Linked DNA regions of Homo sapiens. The protein of the gene in region 3 purifies or fractionates together with the protein of the main gene of each other region. This does not show direct contact. Each region holds a gene or a part of one and is shown on either strand. Other genes may lie near its edges.

Evidence for each region.
Region 1: the proteins of ESR2 (region 3) and COPB2 purify together in Homo sapiens (affinity purification with mass spectrometry; 3 studies listed by BioGRID and IntAct, with this or other methods). This does not show direct contact.
Region 2: the proteins of ESR2 (region 3) and COPG2 purify together in Homo sapiens (affinity purification with mass spectrometry; 3 studies listed by BioGRID and IntAct, with this or other methods). This does not show direct contact.

The regions. Positions count from the first base shown.
Region 1 is NC_000003.12:139,372,621-139,379,647, forward strand, and holds part of COPB2 (coatomer subunit beta'), read right to left. Parts: intron 6,847-7,027; coding exon 6,760-6,846; intron 6,554-6,759; coding exon 6,427-6,553; intron 5,570-6,426; coding exon 5,421-5,569; intron 2,995-5,420; coding exon 2,848-2,994; intron 1,969-2,847; coding exon 1,869-1,968; intron 1,189-1,868; coding exon 1,046-1,188; intron 793-1,045; coding exon 593-792; intron 1-592. UniProt on the Homo sapiens protein: The coatomer is a cytosolic protein complex that binds to dilysine motifs and reversibly associates with Golgi non-clathrin-coated vesicles, which further mediate biosynthetic protein transport from the ER, via the Golgi up to the trans Golgi network.
Region 2 is NC_000007.14:130,560,722-130,567,748, reverse strand, and holds part of COPG2 (coatomer subunit gamma-2), read left to right. Parts: intron 1-3,355; coding exon 3,356-3,489; intron 3,490-4,412; coding exon 4,413-4,480; intron 4,481-6,527; coding exon 6,528-6,716; intron 6,717-7,027. UniProt on the Homo sapiens protein: The coatomer is a cytosolic protein complex that binds to dilysine motifs and reversibly associates with Golgi non-clathrin-coated vesicles, which further mediate biosynthetic protein transport from the ER, via the Golgi up to the trans Golgi network.
Region 3 is NC_000014.9:64,256,350-64,263,376, forward strand, and holds part of ESR2 (estrogen receptor beta), read right to left. Parts: intron 4,400-7,027; coding exon 4,100-4,399; intron 1,067-4,099; exon of another isoform or gene 1,016-1,066; coding exon 877-1,015; intron 1-876.

The sequences.
Region 1 (7,027 bases), on a different chromosome or scaffold from region 3:
ACAGCATTATAAGATGCCCAGACCTGCTGTAAAATAATTTTAAAGCTCCACAGGTTTAGACTTCACTGTGCTAGAAACTCCTCTCTCACAAGATGTTTGGTGACTTACAAATCTTAAGGGAGAAATTCAACTGACAGTTCGAATTACAAATAAGAAACAGAATTATTATCAATCCCAAAACTTTTTCAAAAGACACATATCTCAGAGTCAGGTTTTCTTCTTGAAAGAGCAATGAGTCAGCAAGCATTTAGAGAGGGCACCTACTAAGTCTCAGCATAAGACATACTCCTTGCCCTCAAAGGAGCACACAAAAACACAAACTCAATGCATGCGAAATAACAGGAAACTACTATTTAACTATTCAAAATTGTGTGGTATAGAACAAGTCCAGATGGGAAACATGCTCCATCTTTTGTGCCAACTTGATCAAGTGGCATGGCTGACTGCAGCTGTGTTGAGGATTGTGAGGCCAGGGCAAAAGCACATTGAGGAATGATTAGAGATGCCAACCACAGGGCAAGAGTGGACTGTGGATCTGCAAACCTGTTCTAACATACACAGAAGCTGAGGGACAATTTTGGTGATGGCTTACCGCCCATTAGGATTGTGCTGAATAGTCTGAGGGTATATTTCACAACTGCCCATATCCTTTACTGCCAGTGGCAATCTTTCACCATCTTTAATTTCAGCATCTCCCATTGCTTTTAGGTTGGCCTGCTGGACTTCTGAATGCTTGGCCCAAATTATCTTTCCATTGGCATCCATGGACATGGCAGGTTCCTCCCGACCAAGCTGAAAGAAAGAAAAATAGCTCTCAGCAATGAAAAGGAAAATGAATAAAACCAAAACAAAACAGATTATTTTTTTCACCTAACAGAGAGCTCCATTTCCTTTCTTCCACTTTAAATCTTCATTGCTTAATGTCTAGTGCTTAATGAAAGAAGTGCCAGTTTTATAAAACTGGTTACTTGGAAGATGACAGTACTAAAATACAAAGAAAATGGTTTTGCCTATGTCCACCTACTGAGAGGGATAGTATAATTACCTTAACAATGATGCTCCCTTCATCATAGCCCAAAGCGACATTGTTTGACCCTCTTAGACTGGCCACGCACCATACCCTCTCCATTCCATAATTCAGTGTGCTCTCAAGCCGGTAGGTGCTTGAATGCCAAATACGTACTGTTCCTAAAAAGAACAATGTAAATACTCCCTTTTGATACAAACATCCGACAATAAACTGTGTCAGGTGAAAGAGACCCATAGAAGTCTTTCTATTCAAACAGATAACACTTCCTGGCAGCTTAATGACCAATTTTTTGACCTACTGTCTTTAAATGATTTTTAAAAGCAACATAAACATAACACATAACATATAAGAAACAAAAACTAAGAATTACGATTTTAAACATGAAATAATAACAGGATTTCCTGGGTAAAGTGTTTCCTATGTGCCAGATGCTTTCTACCCACAATTTCTTCTCACTATAATTTTATGAAGCAGATATATATGTTTCCATTTCATAATTTGCCCAAACACACATTCATGACATAACAGAGCCTGATTTTGAACCCAGGTTTGTTTGACTCCAAAGCACATGCTTTTTCAGTTTCTCTTTAGGACAGCTGACGGTCCTCTTATTTAAGTGACAGAATCAAAATACATGAGAATGATGACGATGATGATGATGATGATGATGATGATGATGAAAATAATGCCCCTTTACTCTTTTATAGCTTAAGTCTGGTACTTTAATAAAAATATCAAAATCCTTGGAAACCTACAATTATAATGCAGAGACATTACTTGCTTTAAATGCCCACTGAGTAGTTACTAGCACAGGAATAAACATACCCTTCTAACTTACCATCTTCTGAACCTGTGATAATGATTGGCAACTCAGGATGAAAGCTGGCACAAGACACATTTTGGGCATGTCCTTCCAGTGTCTGCACACATGTTTTATTCTGTAATTAAGACATAGAAAACATGTTTTATTAATGAAAAACATGTAACCAGCCCGCCCTTAATTTTCTCAGTGTACAGATACATTATAAATGATAGTAGTCATGAAAATCTAAATAATATCCAATATAGAAATTTTTGAAATAGGATGATCTTGTTGTATATATGAATATTTTATCTAATTACTTTGTAAAATAAATGTAAATGTAACTATCACATTTAAAGAAGGGGAAAAAAACCCAAGAAGGCTTTTGTCTGAATATTATTCCCCCAAATTCTCAGGATAATAGATTTCCCCCTTAAAACTCACACCTACCATCACTGGCTAAGTAGACAGTGCTGCTTTAGCCTTTAATATTTTTATTCTGGATTTAAGTACAAATCTGAAAATGTTTCAAGGAAAAACTGACTTTCTAGACCTCATTTTATTAATTGCTTATGGGAACTTTTGATGTGGAAAACAAAAATATCAAAATATAAGAAAATCTTAGAGATAGGAAGCATGTTAACAAGAATTCATAACTAGGTTTACAAGAGTACGATTTGGCAAAATGGTTGGTAATTGTTGATCTGCTAGCTTACAAAAATGAATAGAAGTCTATCAATGAAGATTATGGAGGATAATTCAACATTAAAATGTTAAAATTTCTAAATGCAATTATGAAATGAAATATGAACATGTTGGTATTTTATTTTTAAAATCTTGATATGCATTGTTTTCATTTTTATGGAGAATTCTGGGAACACAGTTTAGGTGCAAATACTGATACCTTAAGTTATTATGCTGTGAACAGTTTTCAACAACCCAAGTCTTAACTGTCCTATAAGAAATAGTAAGAAACATATCTAACATATGGAAGTAAGGTTATGAAAAACTGTACCTGATAATCCCATATTTTAACAAGACGGTCATCTGCACCTGAAATGAGGTATGGCTTGTCCCCACCACTGTAGTAATCAATGCAATTCACGCCTTTCTCATGTCCTTCCAAAGTGAAGTTTGGTGACGAAGAGCCCAACTGCCACACCTGCAGAGAGAAACAGCATCGGCCAGTCAATATGGGGCCTTGCTTTACAAAAGGCAAATCCACCATATTTCTGACACATTATGTAAAATGCCAAAGCCCAGGAGAGAAGAGCTATCAAATTTTATTTTTTATCCTGTTTGGTTTTTGTTCTTTCTCATTTTACTTGAATTTTCAGGGAGCAAAATCACTATGGCGTTCTTTAAAAGAAGTGCCAATTTCCAGGCTTTATCTCTAGAGATTATAAGTCAGTCAATCCACAGTGACGCCCAGGAATCTAGATGTTATGAAATTATTTTATTATAGATTTAATATACAGCTCATGAAAGTAGATTTAGTAAGATATATTAAAAGTTGCTGGGTGTGGTGGCTCACACCTGTAATCCCAGCACTTTAGGAGGCCGAGATGGAAGTTATCACTTGAGCCCAAGAGCTCAAGACCAACCTGGACAACACAGCAAGACCTTGTCTCTACAAAAAAGTAAAAAGTAAAAAATTAGCTGGGCATGAAGGCACACGCATGTAGTCCTAACAACTCAGGAGGCTGAGGCAGGAGGATCGCTTTAGCCCAGAAGTTTGAGGTTACAGTGAGCTGTGATCATGCCACTGCACTCCAGCCTAGGCAACACAGACCGTAACTCAAAAATACATAAATAAATAAATAAAAATAAAGGCCTATTAAAAGGAGAAAATTACTGCCTAATTACCAATTTAAAGTGTAGAAAATTGTTAAAAATTACCACAGCACAGAATTAAGCTTTATCTTTACAAATATTTATTGAGTGCCTATTATATGGGAGGCCCTGTGGGGAGTATAAACGTGTAACAAATGTTTATCAATTACTGTATAAAATAAACTTTATTGGAACTGAAGATAAGACAATTATTGTTCTCAAGATAAACCTAAATTAGTAAAAATAAAAGTTTACAACTAATTTCAAAGTTAATCTATGTCAAAAGCAAGGATAATCCAATCAAAGGCAAAATAGCTAAGGTTAAAACCCTAAGATATTCAGACACATAACATTTTACATAAAGGAAAACTACTAACAGTGTTTTATATAGGTGAAAGCAAACATGTAAGCAAAAGTTAATTTATTTTAAGTCAATGCATATGGAAATATTTTAATTAATTAATTAATTTATTTATTTATTTGAGATGGAGTCTCGCTCTGTCCCCCAAGTTGGAGCGCAGTGGCGCAATCTCGGCTCACTGCAAGCTCTGCCTCCCAGGTTCATGCCATTCTCCTGCCTCAGCCTCCCGAGTAGATGGGGCTACAGGCGCCTGCCACCACACCCAGCTAATTTTTTGTATTTTTAGTAGAGACGGGGTTTCACCGTGTTAGCCAGGATGGTCTCGATCTCCTGACCTTGTGATCCACCTGCCTCGGTCTCCCAAAGTGCTGGGATTACAGGCGTGAGCCACCGTGCCTGGCATGGAAATATTTTAAATATTATGATAAAAAAAAGAAGCATGATTGCCCTCACTGCAACATGTATTAAGCATCTAGGTCAGGTAAGGCACTTTGCTGTTTGCTATTGAATGGCTGGGGAAAGGGAGTGACACAGTTTCTATCCCCCAAATCCAGTATTTCAGGGGATAAAGATTTCCAAAAACGTGTAATAATAATTCAATCTGAGAAAGGCTGAAACAGAGGCAAAAAGCAATGGAAGAAATGGGATAAGCATAACTGGCTCTGTCTAGAGGTGAAGTTGATGTCTGACAAGAGGTTCTCAAGAGTAAATATTTGTGCTAAACCTTAAAAGCTGAGTAATTCTCCGGAGGAAAATATATCAAAATAGGAAAATAAAGAGAAGTGCAGGAAGATGGAACAGTTCAATGAAGTAAGGTTTTGTGAACATTCATAGCCTCTCTAGAGGATGGTGAGTAGACCAGGGTTTTAGGAGATGTCGCATAATATTAGCCCAGGCTAGTCCTGGAAATCCTTGTATTCCACACTAAGGCATTTGGACTTTATCCTTAGATCAGGAACTGTTTCAGAAAGATAACAGACAGCAGTGTGGTAAAATGGAGTAAGAAAGAGAGAATAGAGGCATATGGAATTTAAATGTAAAATAGATAAACGATGAGCAGAAGTCAACAATGAATACTAAAAGGAGAGGACAGTAGTATCCTAAAAAGATATTGGCATTTTTCTTATTCTGGGTTTCCAAAGGCTAAAAAATTTTTATAACATGCTGCCTCCACACAGAAAAACGCTCCTCATTAAGAGCACTGAGTTGCCACAATATTTTTCTAAACAGAACATGTCGTTTGGATTAAAATGAGAAATCCTATTTTGACTTCAAAACAGGCTTTTGAGGAAAATTTTTAAGATGGGTACATTTCTGACCAGTCAACAGTAAAACACCTAAGGCAAGTATAGTTCACTAATAATGATAACTGACACAAAATGTGGATGCCCTACCTTGATAGTCCTGTCCAAAGAGGCACTGGCAAACTGATTGTTATCTTTGGGGTTGATCACAATCTGCATAACATAATGGGTGTGTCCTTCAAACACTTGTGAGCAAGACCATTTTTTATCCCAGTCCCAGAGCTTAATAAGCATGTCATCTAGGCCAAAAGAAAGTCTCAAGTTAGTTGTAATTCTATTTTTTCACTTCATAACTAAGACACAGTCTTTAGAAGAAGCAAACCTAACACAAACCATATAATCCATGACTTACAGAAATAGAATCAAAACCAAATAGAGTTTTCAAAATGCTTATTTATCTTAAAAATAAATTTAACTCTCTACAGAAAAGTGGAGATAAAATAAATAAAATAGATTAGAAATAGAAAATATAAAAATTCTGTGAAAAAACTTAAAAATTCAGTGGGCATTAAAGAATGGCCAAAGAGTAATATAAGTTTGACTAGATCTAAGCATGACTGAATAGTGATAGCAATGACTATGTAGAGAACAAGCATTTGCCCTCACAAGATTGGTTTTTAAAAAGTTTTTAATTACTTCTCAATTTTTAATTTAAAAACATTTCAAAGAGCTATTACTAATTCAGTGCTACCTCTTTTTCCAGTCCTCCAAGAGGTCTACTATTTATACACAATACCAAGGAGCAAACTAGTTTGAATATAAAGATTGAACTGAATAGGGTCTATGGCAATCTGCCAAAAACTCACTCATCAACATGTAAATGACCTTTCTGTTCAGCAGATGTTTAAACATCTAGACTTGTAGGTCTTCTCTGACAGGAACTGGAGCAATCATTACACAAATCCTAAGTACAGTTGATATTTCATTATAGTACAAACACAAGCAGCATCAATAGCACAGTAATGGATCTAAATAGTTTAAAGGCCGCTTGGAATTAGAATTATATTTGTAACAGCAGTTAAAGCATAGCATGTCTCAGTGAATGAAAATGAATTACCCAAAGAGACGCACATGACCAAAAAAGGTCATCTCTTACCACTGCTAGTTAGAATGAAAGGCTGGGTTGGATGAACAGCAATACAGCGAATGTAGTCTGAGTGTGCTTCAAACATATGAACTCTCTCCAGAGTATTGTAATTGAACACTCTAATCTGCATGTCATCCTAGAAACAGAAATTTTAAAACCATCATCCCTGTTATCAAGTAAATTATACAAAAAAACTATATCACAGGCTCAAGGAATAAAGTCTATGCCTCAAAACATTGCTGTAAATAACAAAACAAATCGGGAATCAAAATCCTGCAACAAATTTACACAATCATTGACCAATTCAGAAAATGGGAATAGAGATTCATATTAATTACTTACCGCTCCTGTCACAACCCAATTCTTCCTTGCAACAAACTTTGCAGCTCGAACAGGAAGATCACATACTTCAAATGTCTTCACCAGTGTCTTTAAAATGTAACAAGAATACACAAATTGAGCTATAAGAAAATAACCACAAAATCTACTCTGTTATATTTCAAACATCCAATTTTTAAGATCACTTCTCATTTTAGTATATTCTCAGGCTAAAATATAAAAGCTCAACATTCAAATTTTTAAAAAAGACCAACTATCTTTTAATAGATTC
Region 2 (7,027 bases), on a different chromosome or scaffold from region 3:
TGAAAAGAACTTTATCTTTCCTTCATTTATGAAGCTTAGTTTCACTGGATACAAAATTCTTGGCTGATAATTATTTTTTTTAAGGAGGCTATCGATAGGACCCCAGTCCCTTCTAGTTTGTAGGGTTTCTGCTGAGAAATCTGCTGTTAATCTGGTAGGTTTTCCTTTATAGCTTACCTGATGCTTGTGCCTCACAGCTCTTAAGATTCTTTCCTTCATCTTGACTTTAGATAATCTGATGACTAAATGCATAGGTGATGATCTTTTTGTGATGAATTTTCTGGCTGTTCTTTGAGCTTCTTGTATTTGGATGTCTAGGTCTCTTGCAAGGCCGGGGAAGTTTTCCTTGATTATTCCTTCAAATAAGTTTTCCAAACTTTTAGATTTATCTTCTTCCTTGGGAACACCAGTTATTCTTAGGTTTGGTCATTTAGCATAATCTCAAACTTCTTGGTACCACCCAGTTGGTAGTTTTTTTATCCTCATCCTCTCCCACCCTACACCCTCAAGTAGGCTCCAGTGCCTATTGTTCCCTTCTTTGTGACCATGTGCACTCAATGTTTAGCTTCCCTTATAAGTGAAAACATGCAGTATTTGGTTTTCTGTCCCTGTGTTAATTTGCTTAGGATAATGGCCTCCAGCTCTATCGATGTTGCTGCAATGGACATAATCTCATTCATTTTTATGGCTGCATAGTATTCCATGGTGTATATGTACTACGTTTTCTTCATCCAGTCCACTGTTGTTGGGTATCTAGGTTGATTCCATGTCTTTGCTATTGTGTGTAGTGGTGCAGTGAACATAGGAGGGCCTGTGTCTTTATGGTAGAACTGTTAGTCCAAACTGTACCATTTTGTAAGCCCCTTGTCATTTCATAGACCTTGATCAAAGTGAAACATTCCTTGGGGGACTGGGCCGTGAGAAACATCCTGCCCGACTGCCTGACTTTCTTATCACATTCTGCTGGGAAAAAGTCCAAGGAACATCACTGTCACATCCTGCCAGAACAAGGGCCAAACCACCTCATCATGGGAACATCTTATCAACATCCTCCCGGGCAGCAAGCCATAACCCTCAGACCCCTCCCTCCCAGGCCTAAAATTGCCCCAGCCTGTAAGCAGAGGTGGGCCCTGGCATTAAGCTGGTGCCCCGCCTCTGCAGGTCTTATGCTGGACATAAAACCTGCATTGCTGTAGAGCCGCCAACTCTCTCTCAGTCTTTCTTTAATCCTCGCCTTCTCATCAAAACCTAAGAAGAACAATTCATATTCCTTCGGGTTCGTATTTAGTAATGGGATTGCTGGATTGAATGGTAGTTCTGAGGTCTTTGAGAAATCTCCAAACTGCTTTCCACAGTGGCTGAACTAATTTGCATTCCCAACAGCAGTGTGTAAGCATTCCCTTTTCTCTGCAACCTCACCAGCATCTGTTACTTTTTGACTTTTTAATAATAGCTATTCTGACTGGTACAAGATGGTACCAAGCATATGAAAAAATGGTCAACATCACTAATCATTAGAGAAATGCAAATCGAAACCACAATGAGATACAATTTCACACCAGTCAGAATGACTATTTTTATGCTTTCAACAGTTTCACTCTGATGTGTATATATTTGAATATTTTTGTATTTATTCTGCTTGAGACTTTTTGAGCCTCTTGGGTACATAAATTAATGTTTTTTCTAAATCAAACTTATGAGGTTTTCAGCCATGGTTTCTTCTTATGTTCTTTTTCCCCTTTGTGTCTCTCTTTTCCTATGAAAACTCCTATCATCCAAAATGTTGGTACCCTTGGTCATGTTACACAGGTCTCCAAAGCACTGTTCATTTTTCTTCCTTCTTTTTTTATTTTCATCAGCTGGTTTATCTCAGTAGATCTACAAGTTTTCTTATTCTTTCATCTGCCTGTGCAAGTCTGCTATTGAACTTTTTCTGGTGAATTTTTCATTCCAGTCATTGCACTTTGCAAATCTAGAATTTCTATTTGGTTTCTTAAAAAAAAAAATCATTTCTGTCACTTTATTGGTAGTCTCATAAGACATCTTGTTGTACTTCCCTTTAAATTAAATATTTTAGTTTCCTTTAGTTCTTTGAACATATTTATATTAGCTGACTTAAAGTTTTTGCCAGTAAGTTCAACATCTGGGCTTCCTCAGGAATAAATTCTATTGACTACTTTTTTTCCCCCATAGATGGGTCATAGTTAAGTATTTCTTTGTGTGTCTCATAATTATTTTGTCAGAAACATTATATTTTAAATATTATAATGTGACAACACTGGTAATCAGACCTTCCCTTTCCCTATCCCTGGGGTTTGTTGTTTTTGTTGTTGTTTGTGACCTTCCTGGACTATTTCTGTAGTCTTTATTCTGTATCTTGTATAGACACTGAAGTCTTTGTTTGATTAGCTGAGTCACAAATAATAATTTGACAGATTTTCTTAAATGCTTTAAACCAGTATGTCTCCCATCATTTTCCAACGGGTGCTGTGTATGTTGGGGCGTGCTTTCCATGCCCCGGGAGTTCACAGCTCTGCCTTAGCCTTCACTTCCTGCTTTGTGCAGAGCCTCAGAGTCAAGCAAAGGTTAGAGAGCGGAGCTCTGTCAGGTCTTTAGTGGCTGTTTGCTTAGCCCTGCACATGCACATGACCTTCTGTATCCCCAGAAATATTTTAGAAATTTTCAAAGCCCCCTAAGGACATCTCATTTCTCAAATTTTCCTTTTAAGTTTTTTGGCCAGCCTCTTGTTTGCCCCTGCTAAAATTGCTGCTTCTGGCAGCTGCAAGATTAACCAAATACTACTGATTTTTTTGGACAAACTCCCTGGGCATAGGGCTTTTCATGCTGAATGAGCTCTTGAGTCAGGTGAAGTAAAGATTAGCCTGTGAATAGGGCTTTTCTAGGAGCACCAGACAGGTCACATAGTGACAGTTCTCTGGGGATGAGATTTTGGCCCAGAGCTGCTTTTGTAGCTAGGCTGCTGGCATTCACAGTTACTGTGGTTCTGAGGCTGCTGGTTTCCAAGACTGCTATGGAACTGGGAAGAGGTGCATGGAAATTGAGAATGAGTAGGTTAAAACACCAGAAACTTCACCATTTTTACTAAGATTCAGCTACTTTTCTTAAATAGATGTTCAGGATTGTTGCAAATCTTTGATTAATTTTTTAGAGTTCTGCAAAAGTTGATTTTGACAATTTTGCCAGTGTTCTAATTGCTTTGTGATGAAATGAATTTTTAGAAATCCCTCATCCACCATTCCAGAAGTGCCTCTCAATCTGCCTGTGCTTTTAATCCCTATGCATATTGCCTCTCTATTTGATATCTAAATAATGGCCTATAAATATTTATTGGCAGCCATGAAAGTCCACTGTTTGATTTCATTGAGAGCTGCTTGCGAAATAAACATGAAATGGTTATTTATGAAGCTGCTTCAGCTATCATCCATCTTCCTAACTGCACTGCAAGAGAGTTGGCACCTGCTGTTTCAGGTTTGTTTTATATTTGATGGCTGGCTTTTATGTTCCTAAGTTTTTGCTTTAAGTTTCATAGGTCTACAGAATAGGTATTAAGAATGTTTTCTGAACACTAGCTCTGTGTATATATAGCCTTTGCATTCTGATAGCTTATATGTAGATAGTTTATTTTAGTTGTTCCTTACTTTATTACTTTTTTTAATGTTTCTATTTCTCCATATAAAACTTTTGAAAGAATTTTATTTATATGTACATAGTTTATTAATAATAGTTCTTTATTGCTTTTTTTTAAAGTTTCTGTTTCCTCGTATGAAACTTTTGAAAACATTTTACAGTTTTCCTTGGTGTTTAAAAAGCCCATTTGTTTTCAGAACTGTCAATATTTCTACCATTTAGTTCAGGTATTAATGGGTATTCTAATTTTTTTTTAAAAAGAGCAAACTTTGTTTCTTATTTAAGTTTTTATAACTGACCAAAAGTGCTTTTTCTTTTTTTTTTTTCTTTTTTTTTTTTTTTTTTGAGACGGAGTCTCACTCTGTCACTGAGGCAGGAGTGCAGTGGCACGATAGCTCGGCTCACTGCAAGCTCTGCCTCCTGGGTTCACGCCATGCTTCTGCCTCAGCCTCCCGAGTAGCTGGGACTACAGGCGCCCCAAAAGTGCTTTTTCTATTTTGATGTTACATTTTTCATGTAAATTTTTGATGCTGTGATAAAATGTATGCATATTTTGAATGTGATTCATTATGTACTATATTTTCAGCTATATGGTATATGATGAGATAAGGAATATTCACAGCATATATAGGTAATAGTCACTGTATCTATATCTGTATTTTACTTCTTCAACTTTTCTATAGTTCTCTTAAGCCAGGAGTATTCACGGTATGTATATGTAATATTACTTAATGTTACATATTATTATTATTATTTTTTTTTAGTTCTTCAACTTTTCTGTAGTTCTCCTAAGCCAGCCTTGAGATATGCAGCTGTGAGGACCTTGAACAAGGTAGGTGTTTCTTTGCTAATTATTGACTTATATCAGTATTTAATTGAGAAACATTAAATGTGAAGCATTTGGTTTTCTCTCCAAGGTTAGTATATGTGATTTATGGGCTTCACCTCTACAACACTTCACTTGTATTTGTGGCCTTGAGTATGCTCATTTTTATTATTATTTAGCTGAAGATTATAACTCATTTCTGACTTCTAAGCATTTTATATTCAAGAGCCACACTGTCCAATATGGTGGCCATTAGCCACCAGTGGCTATTTCAATTTAAATTAATTAAAATAAAAAATTCAACCCTCAGTCACATGAGTCACACTTCTTGTACTCACAGCCACATGTGGTCAGTGGCTGTTGGACAGTGCAGATCTTGAACATTTCTGTCATTGAAGAAAGTTCTCTTGCACAGTGCTGGTCTACAGCAGCCCTGTCCAGTAGAAACCCACTGTGAATCACATATGTAATATTAAATTTCATAATAACCACATTAAAATTTTTAAGGTAAAATTAATTTTAATAGTATATTTTATCATAATACATATAATATGTCATCTCAACATGTAATAGATATTTTTACATATCTCAAGTTTTTGACATCCAGTATATTTACATTTACAGCATACTCAGTTTGGATTAGCCACCTTTCAAATGCCTGGTAGTCACATGTTGCTGTTGGCTATGTTATTAGACAGTATAGATTTAGAGGATATAATACAGAAACACAGAATAAATTAAATAAGCATAGAAAATGTAAATGAAAGTTAAATGTAATAGAAGACTTGTCATAGGCAATACATAATTATAAATTAATTGTGTAAACAGTCGAAGAAAAGAGAAGTTTAGAGCAGCCATGGAAGAAACCTTTATAGAACAACAATTTAAATGGTTTTTTATTTATTTATTTTTTTTGGAGACAGAGTCTCACTTTGTCTCCCAGGCTAGAGTGCAGTGGCACGATCTTGGCACACTGCAACCTCCGCCTCCCAGGTTCAAGCGATTCTCATGCCTCAGCCTCCCAAATAGCAGGGATCACAGGCACCTGCCACCACGTCCGGCTAATTTTTGTATTTTTAGTAGAGACAGGGTTTCGCCATGTTGGCCAGGCTGCTCTCAAACTCGTGACCTCAGGTGATCTGCCCACCTCGGCCTCCCAGAGTGCTGGGATTGCAGGTATGAGCCACCAAGCCTGGCCTAAATTGTTTTTAAAGAGTTGATACAGGTCTACAATCCCTCATCTCTAATCTTGGGGCCAGATGTGTCTCAGAATTTGCTTTTAGTTAAATTTTAGAAAGGTTATATGGTGTTATCTCTTATTTACTAACCCCAGTGGGCCTGGGGCAGCATCCCACCATTAAAAAACATTAATATTTTTGCACAAAACATATGACTATCCTTGTCAAGTGGTATAAATTAAGAATTAAAGAGTTTCGCATTAGTTTGGGTCATGTTTTGCTGTTAAATGGATTTTCATCCCAGTGCTCTGCTTTCCAGAGTGTTTTCAGATTTTCCAAATTGTGGGTAAGGGATTCCATACCAATATTGGGATAGACAAAGAGGTGGGACAACATCAACAAAAACAAGGATGCAGGAGAATGGCAGACCATGTAGTAACCATAGATAATGCAGTTTGGCTGGAGTTTGCGTCTTGAAATGCAGCAGTATTTTTTAACTGATAAGATATTAACAGTCTTTGTCGAGCACTGACTACTATGCTAGATCCTGTTGTCAGTACTCCTAACATCTAATAGAATAGACGTATATGAACACACGTACTATAAGGAAATACAGGCCAATTATAATTTTTTAAAAATGGTAATGTTAGAAAGGTTAGAGGAACCTAACAAAAGAGAGTACGATGCTATACTCTGGCCGTTGATCATTTATTAAAAGATATACCTTGTTAACTGGAGCCATTCTTTTTGTTTTTGAAGCAATTACTTTTAACTTATCCTGTCCTCTTTGGATTGCCACTTACCTCAATTAAAATTTAAGTTCTGGCCTTTATCAAAAGCAATTTGCTTAATTTTTTTTCTTGCCCTTCCACAAGGTGGCAATGAAGCACCCCTCTGCTGTTACTGCCTGCAATCTGGACTTAGAAAACTTAATCACAGACTCAAACAGAAGCATTGCTACCTTAGCCATTACTACACTCCTCAAAACAGGAAGTGAGAGCAGTGTGGACCGGCTCATGAAGCAGATATCTTCTTTTGTGTCTGAAATCTCAGATGAGTTCAAGGTAAGAGTTTAAACATGATCATATTTTCTCCCAGTCTGTTGGCTGCCTATTTATTTTCTTAACGGTATCATTTGAGAAGCAGAAGTTTTAAATTTTTATGAAGTCTAATTTATCAATTTTTTTCTTTCATAGTTATTACTGTTCCCTAAGAAACCTTTATCTACTTGTTTTCTCATGCTTTAGGCTAAATGCTTTATGGTTTTAGATTTTACATTTTAGGCAATGATCCAACTTGAATTACTGTTTGTTTGGTAAGTTCAGTATTTTTTCCATACCTATATCTACTGTATTCCACCATAATTTGTTGGAAA
Region 3 (7,027 bases):
CATTTTCTGTTAAGTTTCATATAGTTTTAGTAACCCTTCCTTCCACCGCTATTGCCAAAAATGCTATATAGTACATGCATTAGAATGTGTTAAAGCAGATCGGGCATGGTGGCTCACGCCTGTAATCCCAGCGCTTTGGGAAGCTGAGGTGGGCAGATCGCCTGAGGTCAGGAGTTCAAGACCAGCCTGGCCAACATGGTGAAACCACTTCTCTACTAAAAATAGAAAAATTAGCCTGGCATGGTGGTGGACACCTGTGATCCCAACTACTTGAGAGGCTGAGGCAGCAGGATCACTTGAATCCGGTAGGCGGAGGTTGCAGTGAGCCAAGATTGCACCTCTGCACTCCAGCCTGAGCAACAGAGAGAGACTCCATCTCAGAAAAAAAACAAAAAACAAAACAAAACAAAACAAAAAAAAACAAAAGAGTGAGTTAAAGCATGTGAAAATAAACTTGGCACATTTCTAAGAATTTTATCACCTGTCCAGAAAGCTCCAGATATAATTGGTCACTATAGGTACAAAAAACAGCAGGACAACTTAAGATTATAACCTGAAAATGGAATTTTTAATGGAGAAAAATCTGTGTCGACTTATACACATAGTGGCCACATACCTACGGGATACAGTCCCCTATTAAAGCGCTGGCCTGTAAATGCTGCTGCACCACAGATTAAAAATGAGTCACAGGACCCTGAATCCTTGGACCCAACTCTCTCCTTCTCTGGTTCTTGACCCAGTGAAGGAGCTGATGATGCTATCATCCTCTGCCCTGCAAGTGTGAGATTTTAATTGCAGCACCCAGGACTTTGTTCCCACTCACTAAGCACCTTACTCAAACAAGTCAGAGAAGAAACACAATGTATTTTTTCTCACCTGTCCAGAACAAGATCTGGAGCAAAGATGAGCTTGCCGGGGTGGTCAATTGAGCGCCACATCAGCCCCATCATTAACACCTCCATCCAACAGCTCTCCAAGAGCCGCACTTGGTCGAACAGGCTGAGCTCCACAAAGCCTGGGGAAAGCAAGAGGCGGTGAGACACCCCCACCCCTCCTCCTCAGCTCCCTGTGTGTGTAGAGACAGAATGGCAAGTGTTAAAACACTAAGAAAACACAAACCATTAGGGAGTTGATATTTTATAGATGTGATTAACTGCTCATTAAAGGAAGAAAACTTTGAAGTTAAGCTGCGCAACTTAGTTTCCAGTCTTGGACCCCTTCTAGAGACAAATATACTTCATTTAGAGTTTGTCAAGCACTACGACCTCGGCTCAGAACTGATCTTTGTTAGCTGTGTCCTGATAATTCCTCTGCACTACTGAGAATGTTGATGCTTGGCTGCCAGTCAGAAGACCTGCCTGTCTGACCCAATCCTTGACTGGGATCAGAAGGGGTGGGGGATGGGGTAGGTGGGGGATGGGGTAGGTGGAGGTTGGGGTTGGAGGCTTGCAGAGAGCAGTGCCAGCCCTCACAGAAAACCAAGGCCTCAACTGCAAGGATTTCTCTGATTGATTAAAATTTCCTATCCAGTGTTAAGATCCTTCTTCTGGGTAGAAGCACTGTTTCTGGGTGATTCTATCCTAAACAGCAAATATAGCCAAGCACACCTGTAATCCCAGCACTTTGGGAGGTCAAGGTGGGTGGATTGCCTGCACCCAGGAGTTTGAGACCAGCCTGGCCAACATGGAGAAACCCCATCTCTACAGAAAATTATCTGGTCATGGTGGCAGGTGCCTGTAGTCCCAGATACTCTGGAGGCTGAAGTGGGATGATCGCCTGAGCCCAGGAGGTCGAGGCTGTAGTGAGCTGAGATCACGCCACTGCACTCCAGCCTGGGCAACAGAGCGAGACCCTGTCTCAAAAATAAATAAATAAATAAATAAATAAAGAGCAAATATAATAACGAAGCAGGTCCTGACAACCTAATAACCCATGTTGGTCACAGTACTGTTTGCAAACAGGTAATCTCTGGGGAGGGAAGCACTTCAAAAGCAAAGCAGAGAACACCGGGGCTTCCTTCACAAGCCATGATAAAAAGAGAGGGCCATGTAATATAAATATGATAACAAAAGACACCGCCTTGGAGTGAAATGGACTCTGGTTCGAACCCCAGCTCAGCCTCTTTCTAGCTGTTCACTTAATCTCCCATTAAGTCTTTGTTTTTCTTATAGGAAAATGGGGGTAACAATGCCTATCTCTGAGAATGTCTTATAGGCAGGATCTCTTATCATTCTTGTTTTACAGATGAGGAAACTACAGCAGAGAGAACACACATGGTTCAAGTCTTTGAACAATTATAACGCAAATCTGCCTCAAGGAGAATGTAATGGTGTTATGAATGTAAAGATGGATAAATACTTTCTAAATCCACATGCTTTGCTCAGTTTAGGTTCCTAATGTGTATATACCTTCCCAGTCTCACCCATAGTGATTGACAATAAGCCTACCCAAGAGAGATCACGGTTCTTAATCTTGTAGATATTCAACAAGATCAAGGCTAGATGATATTTTAATATATATTTTTTGGTTTGGACAATGACTATGCCAGCTAAGAGAGGAGAAAAAAAATCACGCCTTCAGATTATGTCTACGTTTCCTGAAAACTTTTCAAAACACCAGGCTTGAATAAGGAATAATGCAGTTTAAGAGTTCAGATTTCTTATGGCACAAAGAAGGTGCACAGCTTTCAGCAATAATTAATTTCACCACTGCTCTCCATGTGTGGTCCTGCAAAATCGTGTTTGGAATACATTTAAAGCAAAAACTAGAGGAAAGTGCATCAGTATTGCCTCCCCTGGGAAAAAGCAGAGAAAATAAAATAATTCTGGCAAAGGTGAAGATGCTAGACAAAACAAAATACAACTAGAAACCAAAAATCCTCAGGAAGCTCAGAAGAAATGGGCCCAGGCCAACAAAAGTCCCCAAATGATACTGTCACCATAGGCCTCAGTTCCCCAGGCTCTTTACCCAAAACTTCTCTTCCCCCAGCTTCTCACCCCTCCTCATCTTTACAGCTTGCCCAGTGCAGTCGCTGCCCTCCAGGCCATGGGAATGCCCCCAGTGGCTCAGAACTTATAAGAGACTTCATTTCTTCAAGGACTGTAAAGAACAGCATGGAGAAGCTGTCACAGGGGGATCGTGGGGTGTTGCCACTCTAGGTTAGAATCCTAGATTCACTCCTCCACAGAAACACCAAGTCAAATGATAATTAGCTGGTAATTTTAGCATCATACAGCACTTCAGATATATATTACAAATGGGCTTGAGAGAAGTGATCACTTTGGAGGATGGAAAACGCAGGTTCCAAGTGACAACTCATGAGTAACTAAGCTCATTTTTAACTTGATGGCATTCCAGGTTTATGGGCCCATTGATGATTCGTGTAACTTCAACCACTGATTTACTCTGTTTGTCCATACATATTCATTTATGTACATAATATTGATTCTCTACTGGAACAATAATTTACAAAATTCTATTTAGCATCTGACAAACCTTTCACTTTCAAACTAGTCATACTGTACTCTACCCCACCCCTCCTTTCAAGGTGAGGAATCCACAGCCAAGAAATGGGTCAATGTGGAGTCTATCATTTTAACCACGTTCCAGGTTCCAGGACTCTAGGATTCTTGCCCAAATGACCCCAAGCCCAATTCCAGAGCCTAGGTAGGTTCCCTGGGTCCATCCTCCCAGACCACCTCTAGGCATGAGAGGTGGCCAACAGGTGAGTGTCTGTAGCAGATGTGGACACACAGGATAGGGTTTGTGCAAGGTGGTATGGGATGCATCTAGCCATGGGAAAAGAAGGCAGTCAAGAATAGAAATGGCTGGGCCACGCACAACTCTTTCTGCACTACCATGTTGGGTACAGAACTCAGAAGAGTCTCAGAATTCTAAATCAGAACACGGCCTTGTTGAAGGTAGGTATGCCAAGACAGAAGGAAGGAACATATTGCACTTAAAAGTTACAAATCCAGCTGAGGACCTGTTAAATATCTAGGCACAGCTCATGGACCTCTACTTTGTACTCTTGCCCCTTAAATATTAGCGGCCGGCCTTTCTACAAGTACATGGAAAACTGATAGCCAGAAAGCCCTACCGGGAATCTTCTTGGCCCAGCTGATCATGTGTACCAACTCCTTGTCGGCCAACTTGGTCAGGGACATCATCATGGAGGCCTCGGTGAAGGGCGCACTGGGGCGGCTGATCAGCACATGGGGCGGCTCAGCCTCCAGGAGGGTGAGCACTAGCTGCTCGGGGCTCAGGGCGTCCAGCAGCAGCTCCCGCACTCGGGGCGCGTGGCCGCCACTTCTCTTGGCCTTGCCGGCACAGTGCAGCTGCTCGTCGGCACTTCTCTGTCTCCGCACAAGGCGGTACCCACATCTCTCTCTCCGGGAGCCTGAAGAGGAAAGCAGAGTCATTCGAATTGCCAGGGTAAAACCGCAGTCAAGCAAAAGCAGCTTGACTTTTATTTTCTGGAGCCTGTGGGGCACGTACCAAAGATTACTATGGTCGTGACCGTACTAGCAAAACCAACGACATAACTTTTCAGAAACTTTTTAGGTCTCCATTTCCAGGTCATCTATAGATACTAACACCGTTTCTCTATAAAGAGTGCTCATAAACCTGTTTCCAAACCATGAAATTAGGAATTTTCTTCAGGTAGAAAAATGGGGATATTTCCAAAGGTATCAAATAATATACTTTTATTATAACACATTCTTAAAATGTTTATATGCATGTGTGCATATGTATATATTTCCTTATACTTACACAAAACAAGTATATTTCAAATAACAAATTAAGTGAAAAAATCTGAAAAATATAGAAGAGAATAAATTTTGGCATAAACTCTTTCAGTCTTTTTAATGCTTTTATTTTTCTTTTTTCTTTTTTTTTTTTTTTTGAGACGGAGCCTTGCTCTGTGGCCTAGACTGGAGTGCAGTGGTGTGATCTCGGCTCACTGCAAGCTCCGCCTACCGGGTTCACGCCATTCTCCTGCCTCAGCCTCCCGAGTAGCTAGGACTATGGGTGCCTGCCACCATATTTTTCCACGTTTTATACACAAAATTATTTATTTATTTTTGAGACGGAGTCTCACTCTGTCACCCAGGCTGCAGTTCAGTGGCACATTCTTGGCTCACTGCAACTTCAGCCTCCCGGGTTCAAGCGATTCTCCTGCCTTAGCCTCCCAAGTAGCTGGGATTACAGGAGCCCGCCACCATGCCTGGCTAATTTTTATATTTTTAGTAGAGATGTGATTTCACCATGTTGGCCAGGCTGCTCTCAAATTCCTGATTCTCAAGTGATCTGCCCATCTTGGCCTCCCAAAGTGCTGGGATTACAGGCGTGAGCCACTGCACCCAGCCTTTATACACAAAATTAGATTGTAGTATCTACACTATTTTAATTGTATTTTTGAGACAGAGTCCTGCTCTGTTGCCCAAGCTGGAGTGTAATGATGCAATCATAGCTCACTGCAGCCTTCATCTCCTGGACTCAAGCAATCCTCCTGCCTCAGCCTCCTGAGTAGCTGGGACTACAGGAATATGCCACCATGCCCAGCTAACTTTTAAATTTTTTTGTAGAACTAGGGTCTTACTATGTTACCCAGTCCTCAATAGTTTGACTGTTTTCTCAGAACCCATTGGGCATTAAAAATCATTTTTAATGTTTGCTAATCTAACTAAACCATCTCGCTTTACTTTGTATGTTTTAATTACTAGCAAAGTTGATTTATATGCTTGTTCTTTGGATTTACTTTTTTTTTTTTTTTTTTAAGAGACAAGGTCTCTGTCACCCAGGCTGAAGTATGGTGGTACAGTCATGATCACAGCTCACTGCAGCCTCAACCTCCCAGGCTCAAGAGATCCTCCCACCTCAGCCTCCTGGATAGCTGGGACTACAAGTGTGCACCACCACATCTGACTAATTTTTGTATTTTTTGTAAAGACAGGGTCTCACCATGTTGCCCAGGCTGGTCTCGAATTCCTGGGCTCAAGTGATCCTCCTGCCTTGGCCTCTGAAAGTGCTGGGATTACAGGCATAAGCCACCACATCCGGCCCAAGAATTAAGTTTTAGTGATATAGAAACAAGGTGGAACCAAAATAACAAACAATAACATGCAAAATCAGAGAGGAATGATTTTGGTTAGAATTTCTAAGATTCTTTTTTGGGAAGATAGAAGCTTAAATTCTCAAATTAATCAAGAACACGTTACAAAACATAAACGTCATTAAAGGAATTGAAACATGGCCAAACATGGTGGCTCACACTTGTAATCCCAGAACTTTAGGAGGCCAAAGGTGGTTTCGGCGGGTGGGGCGGGAGGGGACGGATCACTTGAGGCCAGGAGTTCAAGACCAACCTGGGCAGCATGGTGAAACCCCATCTCTACTAATAATACAAAAATTAGCTGGGCATGGTGGCAAATGCCTGTAATCCTAGCTGTTTAGGAAGGTGAGGCAGGAGAATCACTTGAACCTGGGAGGCAGAGGCTGCAGTGAGCCAAGATCACACCACTGCACTCCAGCCTGGGTGACACAGCGAGACTCTGTCTCAAAAGATAAAAGGGAATTGAAACAGAATGTATGACTTTTAAACTAGCAAAAGAAGAAAAAGAAAACATAAAAATGTGATCAACTCCTAAAAGGGAAGAAGTAGAAAATACATAATAAAATTTTTTAAATCAAAAAATAAGATGATAGAAATGAACCCAAATATCAGTTATCACAATAAACAAAAAATACCAAATTGACCATTTAAGAGTGACTCTGAAATTATACATATTTTTAAATCTAGACATAGATTAGGTGTAAGAGATATACCTAACATATAGAAAAACAAAGTAGACAGATAGAAAAATATTTAACAGGCAAAATTAACCAAATAAATTGACATTACTCTATTGATACCAGACAAATAAACTTTAAGGCAAAAATTATTATTATAGATAAGGAGACTCATCGCTAGAATATTTTAAAAAGATAAATAATTCTAAACTCATATACTTCAAAACAACAAAGG